Regions from separate parts of the Homo sapiens genome. Here all the other regions are linked to region 1. The links come from fine-mapping of genetic effects on gene expression. A gene starts in region 1. Each other region holds a variant in brackets. All regions are shown on one strand. Distances are between the middles of the regions. Region 1 holds the start of WDR59 (WD repeat domain 59). Region 2 overlaps ZNRF1 (zinc and ring finger 1). Region 3 overlaps WDR59 (WD repeat domain 59).

Region 1 (5,958 bases):
ACTGCTCAAATTCTCAGTAGAGGCTACTGATCAGAGGGCACCACAGAGCAAAATGGTGGGTAGCTCCTCCACTCACTCATTCTCCGGCAAAAGACAGGATGGGGTTTTGGAAAGAAGAAACCACATCACCCATTCATACTTATCCAGATCTCCCTCAGTATGAATCACCTGTGCATGGTATAGTGTATACCTGAAGGGAGCTCAGTAAATCCTTGTTGAATAAATGAGTGAATAAAAGTGTGGCACACAGAAGGTATTTGATAAATATTAGTTGAATAAATGAAAAGAATGGCCAGGCACAGTCGCTCACACCTGTAATCCCAATATTTTGGGAGGCCAAAGTGGGAGAATCGCCTGAGGCCAGGGGTTCAAGACCAGCCTGGGCAACACAAAGAGACTCTGTCTCTACAAAAAATAATAGGCCAGGTGTAGTGGCTCACACCTGTAATCCCAGCACTTTAGGAGGCCAAGGCAGATGGATCACTTGAGGCCAGGAGTTCAAGACCAGCCTGGCCAACAGAGCGAAACCCCGTCTCTACAAAAAATACAAAACTTAGCCAGGCATGGTGGCACGTGCCTGTAATCCCAGCTACTCGGGAGGCTGAGGCACAAGAATCGTTTGAACCTGGGAGGCAGAGGTTGCAGTGAACCAAGATCATGCCACTACACTACAGTCTGGGTCATAGAGTGAGACTCTGTCTCAAAAAAAAAGGTAAATAAATTTAAAATTGAAGAGAATCACCAAGACACTGTCCTAGGTGCTGGGGAAGAGGGGATGTATATGACCGGTTCAGAGCTACCCACTATGAGTAAAGTAGTCCAATGAGCTAAACAAGGGCTCTGGGGTAGGATCCAGCATCCAAATCCCAATGCTGTGTGTGCCACACATCCTCAACATACAACCACATAAAATCTTCACTCGAGGCTGTGCTCAGTGAATCACACCTGTAATCCCAACACTTTGGGACGCTGAGGCAGGGGGTTCGCTTGAGCCCAGGAGTTCCATACCAGCCTGGACAACATAGGGAGACCCCGTCTCTACAAAAAAAAATGAAAAATTTAGTCGGGCGTGTTGGCATGCGCCTGTAGTCTCAGCTACTGGGGAGGCTGAGGTGGGAGGATAGCTTGAGCCCAGGAGGTCGAAGCTGAACTGAGCGGTGATTCACGCCTCTGCACTCAAGCCTGGGTGACAGAGCCAGACCCTGTCTCAAATGAAGTAAAATAGGCCAGGCACGGTGGCCCACGCCTGTAATCCCAGCACTTTGGGAGGCTGAGGTGGGTGGATCACCTGAGGTCAGGAGTTCAAGACCAGCCTGACCAACAAGGTGAAACCCCGTCTCTACTAAAAATACAAAAATTAGCCGGGCGTGGTGGTGCGCACCTGTAATCCCAGCTACTTGGGAGGCTGAGGCAGGAGAATTGCTTGAATCCCGGAGGCGGAGGTTGCAGTGAGCCAAGATGGCACCACTGCACTCCAGCCTGGGCAACAGAGTGACTCTCCATCTCAAAAAAAATAAATTAAATTAAATTAAATAGAAAATTAAAAAATAAAATCTTTAAGCCAATCTTGTAAGTACGACCATCTCCCTTCTACAGGTGAGAAAACTGACGTGTACGGAGTGATGACAGGGTAGGGGCTGCGGGATTCGAACTCGGGCAACACGTGCAGTGTCACTCCTATCCACTACACGGTATTTTCCAGTATGATGGCATTAAGAACCACTTAACCGCGTAGACGCTGCAACAGGCACTTTGCAAACAGTGTTTCATCGAATTCACCCCAACAGGGTTACGTCCACGCAGCTGAGACTTAGAAAAGTCCCGCGACTTGCCTTAAGTCGCCACACGCGGCTAGGGCCTCGGGAAGCCGTCACGCCCTCGCTCCGTACCCTGATTGTGGGAAGCCTCCCCTCAGCACTCACGATGCGCAGTCTCTGCCTCAGTGTCACAAGGCGGACCCCACTCCCCTACCCGCGTAGGGAGCCCCGAAACTCCGTCCATGCTCGCCCCGATTGCCCCCGATGGTCGTCTTCCCTCCCCCGACGGGGCCTAAGAGGTCGGCTAAGCCCCGCCCACCTCCTCAGTACGGGGCCTAGGGTCTCCCCGTAGCCCCCCGGGACGGAAGCAGCCGCGTGGGGGAGGGGAAGCGGGGAGGACGCATGCCCAGAGGGCTCCACTCGGCCTCTAGCTCACCTGGGAGTCACGGAACTCTACAACCACGTTTTCGCTGCTCCATCGCGCCGCCATCTCCCCCGCCCGGCCGCCGCGGCCCCAGGACGGCGCCCTCCCACCCCGCCGTCCCCAGTATCCCGGGACCGTGCGCCCCACACAGCCAGAGAATCAGCCCCGACACGCCCCGTGCCCTGGTTGCTCCTGAGCTCAAGCCATTGGTTGACCCAAGCATAGGCTCCGCCCCTTCTTCCTGGGTCCTCCAATTGCTACACCGCGCCTGCAACAAACAGGCACGCCCTCGCTCACTTCCGTCACTTGGTTTGAGTCACCCACGCTCCTCGCGATTGCGGGCACACCCCCTGCCGCGAGCTCTGCCGGGAGTTGTAGTCCAAGCTCGAGCAAGCGTGGGTGACCTGGGAAGGGCTCGCAGGTTTGGGTTTGGGTGAGGTGAGGTGCCTGTTGTCCTGACTAGCTCCTCGCTGGAGTCCCCAGCATTCGTCCAGACCCAGTCTCAAATCAAAATCAACGTTCGGGGCGGGTGCGGTGACTCACGCCTGTAATCCTAGCGCTTTGGGAGGCCGAAGTCAGGAGTTCGAGACCAGCCTAAACAACATAGTGAAACCCCGTCTCTACTAAAAATACAAAAATTAGCCGGGTGGCGGGCGCCTGTAATCCCAGCTACTTGGGAGGCTGGGGCAGGAGAATCGCTTGAACCCGGGAGGCGGAGATTGCAGTGAGCCGAGATCACGCCATTATACTCCAGCCTGGGTGACAAGAGCGAGACTCCGTCTCGGAAAAAAAAAGAAAAAAGAAAAATCAAAGCTCGTGCAAACCGAAGATACCTCTTCTCCTGATGCCTATCCCATCGAGATATTTAAAAGTCTGAATGTGCAATTTATTGTTTCATACAATACAGCAGCGCCTCCCGTAACAATGAAGGTAGACTTAAATGTGAGAATCCAGCTGTTTTCTTGATCTGTAGTCCAATGCTCTACCTGTGAGCTATACCCCCTCCTGCAATCCAGCTGCTTTCTTTCCTTTTCTTTTTTTTTTTTTTTTTTTTTTTTTGAGACAGAGTCTTGCTCAGTCGCCCAGGCTGGAGTGCAGTGGCGCGATCTCGGCTCACTGCAAGATCCGCCTCCTGGCTTCACGCCATTCTCTTGACTCAGCCTCCGGAGTAGCTGGGACTACAGGCGCCCGCCACTACGCCCGGCTAATTTTTTTGTATTTTTAGTAGAGACGGGGTTTCACCGTTTTAGCCAGGATGGTCTCGATCTTCTGACCTCGTGATCTGCCCGTCTCGGCCTCCCAAAGTGCTGGGATTACAGGCGTGAGCCACCGCGCCCGGCCGCTGTTTTCTGATAAACCAAACATTAAAACAGATTTGCCAGAATTTTTTGTTGTTTTTTTTTTTTTTTGAAAATATTGTTCTTTTTCATTTTAAAATGTATTCATGTGAAGGGCCTTAATGTTTAAATGAAATAATGAATATATTTTTTAAATTCTGTATACTACATATAAAAGTTTTTGGGGGCCGGACGCAGTGGCTCATGCCTGTAATCCCAGCACTTTGGGAGGCTGACGTGGACGGATGGCTTGAGCCCAGAAGGAGGCTGCAGTAAGCTAGGATCACATTACTGTACTCCAGCCTGGGCGACAGAGCAAGACCTTGTCAAAAAAAAAAAAAAAGTTTTTTTGGGATTTTCAGTAATTTTTAACAGCAGTGTAAAGGGATTCCAAGATCAAAAAGTTTGAGAACCACTGTACTAACATGGTGGGTGGTGATTAAGTTTCCTTTTCAGTCCCACACTCTTAAATGTTGATTTAACTGGTTTAGCTTCAGTTTCCCTATAGAAGGGAAAAATGGCTTACCTCATTGGATTGTTGTAAGGAACTAAGCACAGGGCCTGGGATGTAGAAAAGCTCAACTATAAACTATTAATTCAGTTCTAGAAGCCAGGAAATCAATAAAAATAAAATAAAATAAACTGTTATTGTTGTTGTTAATATTATCACTATTTGTATGTGCAAGTCATTGTATGAATAGAGGTAAGAAAGTGTGGTCTCTTCCCTCCTGGAGTATTGGCTATAAGGGGGAAGACAGACTTGTTGACAGATTACGGTGACTAACTTGTTGCCTGGACCGTTTCATGTTTTATTTTTATTTTTTTGGAGAAAGGGTCTCGTTCTGTCACTGAGGCTGGAGTGCAGTGGTGTGAGCATAGCTCACCACAGCCTCCAACTCCTGGGCCCAAGCAATCCTCCTGCCTCAGCCTCCCAAGTAACTGGGACTACAGGCATGTGCTACTATGCCCAGCTATTTTTTTTTTTTTTTTTTTTTACTTTTTGTAGAGATGGTCTCGTTGTGTTGCCCAGGGTGGTTTCAAAGTAGTGGCTTCAAGCAAGTGATCCTCCGGCCTCAGCCTCTGGATTAGCTGGGACCATAGGTGTGAGCCACCATGCCTGATCCCTTTTCATATTCTAGCACTGCATCACCAAAAAGTCTTGCATCCCAAGAAACCCATAAGTTCCAGGCAAACTGGGACAACTGGTTACTCTACAACAGGAATGTGCTTGGCAGAATGACTTGTATATTATAATAGATTTGCAAGCAATATGGCAGGAGAGAAAAGCCTAAATAGGCGACCCGAAATGGCATCTTGAAATCTTGAAGAATATGACATCTGAGCTTTGTTTTGTTTTGTTTTGTTTTGTTTTGTTTTGTTTTGAGACGGAGTCTCCTTCTGTCGCCCAGGCTGGAGTGCAGTGGTGGGTGGATCACTGCAAGATCCGCCTCCCGGGTTCACGCCATTCTCCTGCCTCAGCTCCCAAGTAGCTGGGACTACAGGCGCACGCTGCCACATCCGGCTAATTTTTTGTATTTTTAGTAGAGATGGGGTTTTACCGTGTTAGCCAGGATGGTCTTGATCTCCTGACCTCGTGATCTGCCCACCTCGGCCTCCCAAAGTGCTGGGATTACAGGCGTGAGCCACTGCATCCGGCCCGACATCTGAGCTTTTCAGTATAATGTTAAGATATTGATACAGTACACTATGAAAAAAAAAAAAACACTTCACCATTAAGAGTGTGAGCAAAGGCTGGACGTGTTTGCTCACACCTGTTATTTGACAGAATCATTTAAGTCCAGGAGTTCGAGACCAGCCTGGACAACATGGCAAGACCCCATCTCTAAAAAAAAAAAAATTAAAATTAGCCAGGCGTGGTGGCATGCATCTGTAGTCCCAACTACATGGGAAGGTGAGGTGAGAGGACTGCTTGAGTCTGGGAGGTTGAGGCTGCAAAAAGCTATGATCGCGCCACTGTGCTCCAGCCTGGGTGACAGAACAAAACCCTGTCTCTAAAAAAAAATTAAAATTAAAGTCATTTCATTCCTGACTGGCTACCTCATCCATTATCTTCATGTTTCTCGAATTTGTGATACAAAGAACAACGTATAGCCAATCAGTAGCTTATGTTATTTTGAGGTAAATTCTTAGTAAAGACTTTAGGAACTGCCCCTTCTTTTTCTTTAGAAACCCACCGTAGGCCAGGTGCGGTGGCTCACGCCTGTAATCCAGCACTTTGGGAGGCCAAGGAGGGCGGATCACGAGGTCAGGAGATCAAGACCATCCTGGCTAACATGGTGAAACCCCGTCTCTACTAAAAATACAAAAAATTAGCCGGGCGTGGTGGCGGGCGCCTGTAGTCCCAGCTACTAGGGAGGCTGAGGCAGGAGAATGGCGTGAACCCAGGAGGCGGAGCTTGCAGTGAGCCGAGATGGCACCA
Region 2 (5,958 bases), 26 kb after region 1:
CTCTTTCCTACATCTTCAGCCAGGCAGCTAGACAAGTCAAGAGCTTAGGATGAATCTAGGCTTTAAAGAGGTTGGAAGACCTGTTTTTCCTTTTCTCTGACTGACCCAAAAGTATAAGACTTTTTTTTCTTTGTGTGTGATGATCTGTTGAACAAAAACGTTCATTTATTCCATTGATAGCCTCTGGTATACCAGGACCTATGGTAGGTGCTGAGAATATATATATTTATTATAGAGCAATTAACTTATTCTTTCCAAGAATCTTTGCTTCCTCACTCCTTAAGAGTCTGAATATTTTAGCTTCTGGGAGATTTTACCTTTTCATCAGCTCCTCTGTTGAATAAACAAATAAATGTAGGTGTTTGTCCATAAGGCTGCTGCAAGGATATACTTCTCTTCACTCATTTTTTTCCAAAGCCCTATTTCTGGGTTGGGGCAGGTGATCTTTTCTTTGTGATTCCAGCTAAGTACCTACCAAGAAATTCCTCGTATGTCTCAGTATGAGGGGTCCTCTGTCCTCTCAGTGAGAATATCAAAAGAAAAACTGATTTTCAGACTCTTCATGTGCATCTTTAATTTCAGTATCTTTGTCATCCCTAGAGCCACTTTTCTTTCTGGTCATTGAACACTATTTTCTAGAAGCATGATTCACCACTTTTTAAATCTGTCTCTGTAAAATTTATCCCAAGCCACAAATACCCATAAGGAAATTTCATCCTTGGTATTATAAGTCTATGTCTCTGAACTTCACAACATCTACACTTCTGTGCTGGCTCCCCTCTCCCCCACCTCCCCAGTTTTGTTTTGTTTTTTTAACTGTCATAAAATATATGTAACAAAATTTACTATCTTAACCGTTTTTAAGTGTACAGTTCAGTGGTATTCTAAGTACTGCATGTAAGTGGACTCGTACAGTATTTGTCTTTTTGTGGCTGTCCTATTTCACTTAGCGTAGTGTCCTCAAGGTTCATCTGCATTGTAGCATATTTCAGAATTTCCTTTCTTTTAAAGGTTGAATCGTATTCCATTGTCTGTCTACCACGTTTTACTTTTCCATTCATCTGTTGCTGGACGCTTGGGTTGCTTCCATATTTTAGCTATTGTAAATAGCTGTAATTCATTGTTAGAAATGTGAATTTCTTAATATCTCTTCAAGACCCTGCTTTCACTCCTTTTGAGAATATACCCAGAAGTGGAATTGCTCCATCATTTGGTGATTCTATTTTTAATTTTTTGAGGAACCACCATACTGTTTTCCACAGTAGCTGCACCATTTTATATTCCTACCAACAGTGCACAGGCTTCCAGTTTCTCCACATCCTTGCCAATACTTGTTATTTTCTGTTTTTTTTTTTAATAGTAGCCATCTTAATGGATGTGAGGTAGTATCCCATAGTATTCATTTGCATTTCTCTAATGAATTAGTGATATTGAGCATCTTTTCATGTGTTTATTGGCCATTTGTATATCTTTTTTGGAGAAATAATCTATTTATATGTCCATGTTTGAATCAGGTTGCCTCTTTTCTTTTCTTTTGATACGGAGTTTTGCCCTGTTGCCCAGGCTGAAGTGCAGTGGTTCAGTCTCAGCTCACTACAACCTCTGCCCCCCGGGTTCAAGCGATTCTCCTGCCTCAGCCTCCAGAGTAGCTGGGATTATAGGCGCCTACCATCATGCCCTGCTAATTTTTGTATTTTTAGTAGAGACAAGGTTTCACCATATTGGCCAGGCTGGTCTCGAACTCCTGGCCTCAGGTGATCCACCCGCCTCAGCCTCCCAAAGTGCAGGGATTACAGGTGTGAGCCACCACACCCGGCCTGGGTTGCTTTTTTCTTTCGTTGTTGATTTTAGTGCAGTTTTAAGAAACTTTTTAAAGCCTTGTTTATGATAGCCAACACTAGTGACTGTAATGTATTCCCCTCGGGAATAAGTAATAAATCTGTGTTATATTTGAGTACATTTTGCTCAAAATAAAGAATTTAACGAATTGTCTCATGCCAAGAGATTTTATGAGTACTTTGGCTGTTGGTAGTGCCTTACTTTCAGAAGGATAATTTTTGGAGAAATTTCACTTCGTATTTAGGTATGTATGGTCTCTCATCTTGGTCTTGGTGAATCAGACTTGTCATAGGAGTGCTCCAACTTTCTTGTTGGTAGTAGCTTGAGCCCTCTGAAAAGTAATTAATCCATACTTCATAAAGAGTTGTTCTGAAATTAGTCACCTCTGTACTGTACTGTTTTTTTTTGTTTTTTTGTTTTTTTTTTTTTGAGGAGTCTCGCTCTGTCACCAGGCTGGAGTGCAGTGGCATGATCTCCACTCACTGCAACCTCTGCCTCCTGGGCTCAAGCAATTCTCTTGCTTCAGCCTCCCAAGTAGCTGGAATTACAGGCATGTGCCACCACAGCCGGCTAATTTTGTACTTTTAGTAGAGATGGGGTTTCGCCAATTGGCCAGGCTGGTCTTGAACTCCTGACCTCAAGTGATCCGCCCACCTTGGCCTCCCAGAGTGCTGGGATTGCAGGCGTGAGCCACCATGCCCAGCTGGGAGAAGCTTTAACCTGGATTCAGGAACAGAGGTAGGAGAACCTAAGATCACAGGCCTCATCTGACGTGGTCATTTTGCACATACTTCTTAGCTTTTTGGAGATCTTTTCATTTTGTTTCCATCTTAAATAACCTTTTCCCTGTGGAGAAGGTGCCTTTTTTGGAGAGAGCCATTAAGATTCTTTTATCCTGCTGCCTGCCTGAGTATTCTGGGAATCCTACAAGGATTTGAGGGAGCCCTTGGGATTCCAACCTAACAAATTAGTTTTCTGTAATATT[G/A]TTCTAGTCCATTTAGATTGTGTAAATGATCTAAATGGTGTAACCATTTAATATCAAAAGTATAACAGCATTTAAGTCAGCTTTTCGAAGAAACTTTTATTTTTTAACTAAAAACAAACTTTTTTTCAGAGACAAGGTCTCACTATGTTGCCCAGGCTGGACATGAACTCCTGGGCTTAAGACATCCTCCTACCCTAGCCTCCTGAGTAGCTGGGACTGTGGGCACACGCCACCATGCCTGGCCAAAGACACTTTTTTATAGCTCTGCCTGCTGCTATAACAAGTGTTCCTAAATACCCATGTACATCCTATATTATTAGATTTCCTCAACTCTGGTTAGCTATGACTGAAACATTCATGCCATTGCAGCCAGTGCCCTGGAAAGCTATAAGCAAGTCTTAAGACCTGTGATAAGGGCTGACTTGCAAGCTAGCTGCCATCCATCTTAATATCTGACGAGCCCAGTCATGTTGGCTGTGTTTAATTGATCCATTTCCTACTTGCTTCCTCAACCCAGAGGCCAAGGGCAGCACAAAAGGATAGTGAATCTAAATGTCTCCAGTTTTTTGAGGTATAGGAATCTCCTATGAAGTGGCAGACCTTTGAGAAATAGTATTATGAGCTGTTCTGTTTTGCTGTGGCTTTGGAAAACCTTTGGATTCCTCTACTGAAAATTTGTTTGAAAAAAAAATCTTTTTAATGAAACAGTGTGAGTCATAAAGCAGCCACCACCCCTTCTCATAATAGCATTTCTCACCAGGGGAATTTTTGGTAGCTGTTGGGGGAGGGATTTGAGTAGGTTGTGGATGATAAATCCCTTGAGGGGAACATAACCAAAGGCTGCCATATCAGAACGCTGGTGCTTTCCATGCTGACACCAAGCCCTGAATTCAAAGTGCAGGACAGCAGAATAGAACAGAGAAGCCTGTGCTCAGTGAATTGCTGCAGTAGCATGACCAGTGAGACTGGAGTTTCAATTAAAACACCGTTGTAGTGTAAAAGGATCATGAGATGGAAGGAGGCCTTGGGTTAGAGAGCCAGAAGCCATTTATAGGCAGAACATCAGCTTTCTGGATTAAAGGATGGCTGTGGACCTAATGATGAGAATCTAGAGGTCATGGGGAATTTCCTTACTGTCTGTGCCCCCCTTTTCCATATGGTCAGCTTGGTGCTTGGCACTGATCATGGCACACTTTACAAAAAGTGGATTCATATAAGGTCGTCTGTGCTCTTCTAAGATTTTAGGTCTAAAGCATTTAGAGTGGCGCCCAGAGGAGACGCCACCCAGTCAGCCTCCTTGTGGCATAGTGAAAATGAAACATTTAGGGATACTGAGAGCTTAGAACAAGCCAGAATTATGATATCAAATCTCAGTTGCCTGTCTTAAACTTTTCTGCCAACCTAGCGTGAGTTTTAGCTGTTTTCAACTTCATTATTTACAGTTTCTCGGGACTCATGTCTGAACCACTATCTTACATAAGCTACAGACGGGAAGGGCTGAACGGTTATTAGAAATGTGTTAAGATTTGCTTTCCTTTGGAGAGTCATGGCCTGTCTTCTGTGTTTTCCTGGCTTTGTACTTTTCTTCAAAGCCTGTTACCGGTTCCAGGTCTCCAGAGCTCAATAAAGGGGAAACAGGAAGTGAGCATTTGATGCATAAGAGCCAGCAAAACATAATAAAGGGCACAGGCATGGAACCAGGAGAGAGAATTGTGGGAGTGAGTTTTCTTGAAGGCATCAGTTCTGTAGGATTAGAGATACATCCTTCAACAATGACTTTTAACTCCTTCAAACAAGGAAAAAGCAATTAGGAACCTCTGTTCAGAAAGGACCAATTTTTCTTAGGTTATATAGTAGAGGTTCAACACTTTCATATGACAGCATACAAGTAATTATAAAGTATCTTTTGCCTAAGGAGTTCAGAACACAGAGAAAAGTGATGATCACCTTTATAAAGGAGTAAGAATTACTTCTCTGTCTCTTTACTTGAGGGCCCACAGGGTAAGTCTTATCATGAGTTCCAGCCTGGAGCCCTGACTCTTACTTTTTCTGTCCATTCAATTTTTTTTTTTTTTCCGAGATGGAGTCTCACTCTGTCGCCAGGCTGGAGTGCAGTGGCGTGATCTCAGCTCACTGCAACCTCTGCCTCCCGGGTTCAAGCGATTCTTCTGCCTCAGCCTCCCGAGTAGCTGGGACTGCAGGTGCATGCCACCATGCCTAGCTAATTTTTGTATTTTTAGGAGAGATGGGGTTTTACCATGTTAGCCAGGATGGTCTCAATCTGTTGACCTCGTGATCCACCCGCCTTGGCCTCCCAGAGTGCTGGGATTACAGGCGTGAGCCACCGCGCCAGGCCTGTCCATTCAGTTTTAGTAATGAACTCTGAAGTTTTAGTCCTGCGGTTACTAAATGGAAAAGTCAGAGATTTGTGCTATTTCAATTTGGTTCACTTGTACATTTCAGGAACTCAAATAGCTGTGTGACTCTGAAAATGGGAACTCTTTGGTGTCTTGGAATTATTTATTTATTTATTTTTAATTTAATTTTATTTTTTTTTTCGAGACGGAGTCTCACTGTATCGCCCAGGCTAGGGGGCAGTGGTGTGGTTTTGGCTCACTGCAACCTCTGCCTCCCAGGTTCAAGTAATTCTCCTGCCTCAGCCTCCCGAGTAGTTGGGATTACAGGCAAACACCACCACACCCGACTAATTTTTTGTATTTTTAGTAGAGGCCGTGTTTCACCGTGTTGGCCAGGCCGGTCTTGAACTCCTGACCTCAGATGATCCACCCGCCTTATCTTCCCAAAGTGCTGGGATTAGAGGTGTGAGCTGCCGCGCCTAGCCTGGAATTATTTTTTTAAAAATGAAATATTTTAGGCATTCAAGAAAGATAATATGCTCACCTACCAAGCAGATTATAATAACTAAAACATTACAGGTATAATTGTATGTACCCTGGCTTATTCCCATTTTCTCTTTCCCTCTCCAAAGGGAACGACTGCCCTCACTCGTGTTTTTCCCGCCATATATGTTCATGCTTTTGCTCCCTGTAGCTATCCAAAACACCATTTGTTTTCTGTAAACTTCATGTAAACTGTATAGACATGGAAGGAGAAAGATATTATGAGGTGTGTGT
Region 3 (5,958 bases), 74 kb before region 1:
TGCACTGTCCAAAAGCAAACTCAGTGGTCCTTCCCAGGTCTCTGGCCACTTCTGGCCCCGGGAACGTAGAGCGGCTTCTGCATCTCCCTGACTCACCTCGGAGTAGGCTCTGTGGGAGACACCGCCCGATGCATTGTCATGGGCCTTGTGAAATATACCAGGTAACCTAAAGGAGGAGACATCACATGAGCCATCAGTGTCAACAAGCTGGCCGTGGGAAATCCTGAGGCAGGACTGGCCAGTCTTTCTTCTATCTCTGTACACCTGAGGGTAAGACACATTTTCATAAGCTGCAAGACTCCTGACTGCAGTCACCCTTACCAGGAACAAAGGTCAGCGCTCCAGGATCCAGGAGAGAGGATGTATGTGGACTGGGCAGAGTCATCAGCAGGACTCTAAGCCTCCCTACCAGGCGAATGCCCCCTGCTAAGAATCAGGGCTCTGAGTAAAGACTCAAATCCAAGCTCATCAGAATGAAGAAAGTTAAGACCCCCATTCTGGTGCACCCTCTTAGGATAAGTCCACAGACACCGACTGGGCCTCAGACCCTACCACGCTACCATGAAAGTCTCGTTTGAGTTCTCGGGAGTAAAAGCAAACATTTTCTGATGAAGATGTTTATACAGAATCTATGACATTCTTAGCTGCTCCCTCTCGAAATCTAGAATCAAAGAACCAAAGAGACCCACCTGCTCCGCAGAACCTGGCCCCAGAAGTCCTAGGAAAGGGAATGTTGGCGTCCTGGTACGACCCGTAAGCCGTGGTCACCCGCGCAAACGTCGGTAAGGGGGGAGTGACAGAGTTGGGGAGTGCAAACGGGTTGCTGGAAGCGCTGTCTTCCTGGTTCTGAAATTTAAAAATCCACAAGCTAAAAACCACAACCTGTCTTAAAGCTGAACTACAAAATAAAGACCCAGTATGACAAAACCAGAAAACCCATGATTTTAGGGAGAAAGAAATGAAACAAAACACCAAAGCCTAAGTTGGTATGACAGTTTCATGCTTCCCACCACAAAGGACTCAAGGCAGGAGACGAGCTGGCGCAGGCAGGGCTCCAGGCAGCTCTGGCCACGCTTCACTTTCTGCAGGGCTGTGTCCTTCAGGATCTAGAAAAGGCCCAAAACACAGTCAAGAAGAGGAACACATTTCTCTGATAGGTTTTTTTTTTTTTTTTGAGACAAAGTCTCTCTTTGTTGCCCAGGCTGGAGTGTAGTGGTACGATCTCGGCTCATTGCAACCTCTGCCTCCCGTCTTCAAGTGATTCTTGTGCCTCAGCCTCCCGAGTAGCTGGGACTACAGGCGCCCACCCCCATGCCTGGCTAATTTTTGTATTTTTAGTAGAGAAGGGGTTTCACCATGTTGGCCAGGCTGGTCTCGAACTCCTGACCTCAAGTGATCTGCCCATCTCGGCCTCCCAAAGTGCTGGGATTACAGACATGAGCCACTGCGCCCGGCCCTGATTGGCTTTTCTTCTGCAAAGTGGTCAGACACAAGGGTGATGCTGGGAGCCAGGTGCATGGTTAAGTCAAGGCTTCCAACACAGTGTAATAATCTAATTTCTACCTCTACCGAGGTTAAAACAGGATTCACTCCTGAGCCCTCCTAGAGAAGCTCTTTCCTTAATCAAGGCAGCACACGTGGATTTTGAGAGGGCAGCTTTCAGTAACAGAAGGACTATTACTTCTTTCTAGTGAACTCTGCCCTTTTCCTCACCCCCAACACCACTTGCTCCATGAGAAACGTCAGTACCTTAGAAGTAATACTCACTGGCCTGGATTGAAATTGCTCTCAGTGACAAGAGGCATGGATTTCACTTCAGTGAAAATTATAATGTATATTTTTTGTCCTTCAAAAGTATAAATCCTAACACTTTAAACCCATTTATGCCTAATGTTCCATTATTGGAACACTAAGCTTGTGGGAGTTATTTATATCCTACTGCTGAGTCATCGCCAAGGTCTGATTTTTCCTTTGTTTTTTTGAGGAGTGTCGCTCTTACTGCCCAGGCTGGAGTGCAATGGCATGATCTCCGCTCACTGCAGCCTCCGCCTCCCAGGTTCAAGCCATTCTCCTGCCTCAGCAGTCTCTGTTGCCCAGACTGGAGTGCAGCCACGTGATCTTGGCTCACTACAACCCCCACCTCCTGGGTTCAAGTGATTCTCCTGCCTCAGCCTACCGAGTCGCTGGGAATACAGGCATGCGCCACCACGCCTGGCTACTTTTTCTATTTTTAGTAGACATGGGGTTTCACCATGTTGCCCAGGCTGGTCTTGAACTCCTGACCTCAGGTGATCCACCCGCCTCAGCCTCTCAAAGTGCTGGGATTACGGGAGTGAGCCACCGCACCCGGAAAAGGTCTGATTTTTCACACACAAAAGAGTTCGCAACCTAATCGTATCATTTTATACTAACAGAAAAATCTATCTTTTTTGTATGTCCAAACTAGGCAACGGCATATTCAGATTCCAAGTTTAACATGTCAAATACCACAAGATCTGAGTTACTGGCATTTCAGAGATCCTTAAGCCACTTGAAAATTTCCTGGTTCCATGTGATACCCCCAACAAGGTGGAACAATCAAGTGTCCACGACC[C/T]AAACTGGACAAAAAATGAGCAACATTCAGCTTGGCCTGAGTTTGTCAGAATACTTCAGTCCCTTCACTTGTGACACTGCTCAGACTGAACGGGTATGAAGAGGCTCATGGGGCTTTGTCATGGAGATTCCACCTGATTTGCTCTGGATGAACTGATGCATTAAATCTCTGAATCTGCAGAATTAAACACAGATGCCAGGCTGTGGTGCCTCCACCTGGACACCTACTGTGCAGCTAGCCAGCCTGTCTCTAGGATAACACCAGCTCCTTCTATGGGATAAAATTTTTTTTATGACCTTACATATGTTTTTTTCTAATTATAAAATATCTTTTAGCTTCAGAATACATCTTGCTTGTTGTTTTCAGGTAAATGAAATTGGACTGCAGGGCTCCTAACCTGGGCTGCTAAATGAAATTGGATTGCAAATCTCCTAACCGGAGATGAATGCATAGTATTAATGAGATCTGTGGGCAGATTCTATGCAATTCACATATTTACAGGCAATATTTCTCAAATCATATGCAATCATTGTGCAGATTTTTCTGAGGAAGGGTCCATAATTTTCATTAGAATTCAAAGGAAGTCTATGACCCAAAAAAGGTTAAGAACCACTGCTCTGATGTTTTCTGCACAAAGTAAATGGCAAGTTCAGAGGTTACGTTGCTAATACTAGTGTGTGTACGAAACAGATGACTTCCGAATCTCATCTACTGGAGTTTTCATTCTTCTTTACTAATCCATCTAGACAATGATGCAGAACAGCAAGGAGAATTTGGGAACCCAGACCCCCACCTTCAGCAGCTTAGCTTTCATGGTGGATGTGATGGTTGTGGGGTTAATAAACTGGAAGGAAGGGGCGGCGTTGTTTGGGTACTGTGCAGGGAACTTCACCAGCATCTTGACACGATGGTTGCTGCAGTGCACAGACACTGTGCAGCTCCTGTCTGCCGCATCCATCTGCAAGAGACAAATCCACAATTGCTGTAGAAACAAACCATAAAGCGTCTTTCGATGCAAGCACATTTAACTGAACGCTCCATGTTCCTGGTAATTGAATGAAGGGAAAGAGTCTACAAAGACAAATGTGTGTGGAAGACAATTCATTTTCAAAAAGATTCTTAAATTTTCATACCAGATTCTTAAAATTTTCAAACCAATGGAATAAGCTCAAAGTTGCTGAGACCAGCTCGGTCGGGGTGACCCTAAACCAGCAGTGCCAGAAGAATTAAAGACACACACACAGAAATATAGAGGTGTGGAGTGGGAAATCAGGGGTCTCACAGCCTTCAGAGCTGAGAGCCTTGAACAAAGATTTACCCATGTATTTATCCACAGCAAGCCAGTGATAAGCATTGTTTCTATAGATTATAGATTAACTAAAAGTATTCCTTATGGGAAACAAAGGGATGGGCTGAAATAAAGGGATGGGCTGTGGCTAGCTATCTGCAGCAGGAGTATGTCTTTAAGGCACAGATTGCTTATGCTATTGTTTGTGGTTTAAGAACGTGTTTAAGCGGTTTTCTGCCCTGGGTGGGCCAGGTGTTCCTTGCCCTCATTCCGGTAAACCCACAGCCTTCCAGCGTGGGCATCACCACCATCATGAACATGTCACAGTGCTGCAGAGACTTTATGGCCAGTTTTGGGGCCAGTTTATGGCTAGATTTTGGGGGGGGGGGGGGCCTGTTCCCAACATGTCCCCCTTCTTTGATTTGCAAAGTGATAAAAGCAAAGGCAGCTTTGTCACGGTGAGCTACTTCTTGCAGGAGTCAAGATCCACATCTGCAGACTACACAAAGACAAACAACACAGAGGGTCAGTTTATGGCCAGATTTCAGGGGGCCTGTTCCCAACACAAAGTATTCTTTTTTTTTTTTTTTGAGACAGGGTCTCACTTTGTCACCCAGGCTGGAGTGCAGTGTGGCACAATCTCAGCTCACTGCAACCTCCACCTTCTGGGTTCAAGTGATTCTCCCACCTCAACCTCCCAAATACTGGGACTACAGGCCACCATGCCCAGCAAATCTTTGTTTTGTTGTTGTTGTTGTTGTTTTGCTTTTTGTGTTTTGGTAGAGATGGGGTTTCGCCATGTTGGCCAGGCTGGTCTCAAACTCCTGACCTCCAGTGATCCACCCACCTTGGCCTCCTAAAGTGCTGGGATTACAGGCATGAGCCACCACGAAGTTCAAAGTATTCTGACTTTAACAAAGCTTCCTCCCTCCCAAAGCTGTGGGGTAGACTGAAACTTGTTATATTTACTTTGAGATGGGAAAATAAAGCAGGAAGAAGTTAAATACCAGACTCAACTTAAAAAGTGCTCCTGGGAAAATCCATAGGGGAAGAAAGTAGATTCGGGATTGCCACGGGCTGAGGGAAGGGGAAATAGGGAGTGACTGCTCATGGGTATGGGGTTTCTTCTGGGAATGATGAATATGTTCTGGAATCAGACAATGGTAATGGCTGTACAACTTTGTGAATATACCCACAACAGCCAGATTATATACTTTAAAAAGCGGAATTTTGGCTGGGCACAGTGGCTCACGCCTGTAATCCCAGCACTTTGGGAGGCCAAGGTGGGCAGATCAACTGACATCAGGAGTTCGAGGCCAACCTGGCCAACATGGCAAAAACCCCATCTCTACTAAAAATACGAAAAAAAATTAGCTGAGCGTGGTGGCGTGCGCCCATAATCCCAGCTATCTGGGAAGCTGAGGCAGGAGAATCGCGTGAACCCGAGAGGCAGAGCCTGCAGTGAGTCACGGTAGCACCACTGCACTCCAGTCTGAGCGGACAGAGCAAGGCTCCATCTCAATAAAAAAAAAAAGATGAACTTTATACTGTGTGAATTATATCTCAATAATTTTTTTAAAGTACTCTCGAAGAAAGGAATCAAGATCTTAAACTAGATCACTAGGTATCCACACTGTCCTCAAATGGGACAAAGGGAGTATAAACTGACTTGATATAGATCACTAATTAAGCAAAGAATCCTTTATATCTTTTCATTTCTTGTGTTGCCAACTAGAGACAGCAGCTGGAGTAAAGAGAAAAGAACCACATGTGGCAAATCTGGAGACCTGGATTCACATGTTGTTTCTTCCACCAAATAGCTGCTGACCTTGGACATTTCTTCTCTTGATGTCTCCGTTTCCTCAGCTGTAAAGTGAGGCTAAAACCACTTACAGCAGACTATTTTTTTTTTTTTTTTCGAGACGGAGTCTTGCTCTGTCGCCAGGCTGGAGTGTAGTGGTGTGATCTCGGCCTCACTGCAAGCTCTGCCTCCTGGGTTCAAGCGATTCTCCTGCCTCAGCCTCGTGAATAGCCGGGACTACAGGCGCACGCCACCATGACCAGCTAATTTTTGTAT

What was found. PIP is the estimated chance that this variant, and not a neighbour inherited with it, causes the effect.
Region 2: its variant is fine-mapped to the expression of WDR59 in whole blood (INTERVAL, PIP 0.91).
Region 3: its variant is fine-mapped to the expression of WDR59 in whole blood (TOPMed, PIP above 0.99).

What each region holds. Positions count from the first base shown.
Region 1 is chr16:74,982,771-74,988,728 of GRCh38, forward strand. WDR59 (WD repeat domain 59) reads right to left here and starts at 2,353. Exons shown (of 26, transcript NM_030581.4): 1 at 2,194-2,353. The coding sequence starts at 2,247. RefSeq lists silencers at 2,099-2,408, 3,444-3,644 and an enhancer at 2,739-2,798.
Region 2 is chr16:75,008,465-75,014,422 of GRCh38, forward strand. All of the region lies in intron 1 of ZNRF1 (zinc and ring finger 1), which reads left to right. Among named protein-coding and RNA genes, the nearest start is that of ZNRF1, 12 kb to the left of the region's middle. RefSeq lists enhancers at 3,356-3,465, 3,776-3,865. The variant G/A (reference allele first, on the strand shown) is at 2,825.
Region 3 is chr16:74,908,812-74,914,769 of GRCh38, forward strand. WDR59 (WD repeat domain 59) reads right to left here. Exons shown (of 26, transcript NM_030581.4): 14 at 3,387-3,551; 15 at 1,011-1,106; 16 at 690-846; 17 at 97-166. Among named protein-coding and RNA genes, the nearest start is that of WDR59, 73 kb to the right of the region's middle. The variant C/T (reference allele first, on the strand shown) is at 2,594.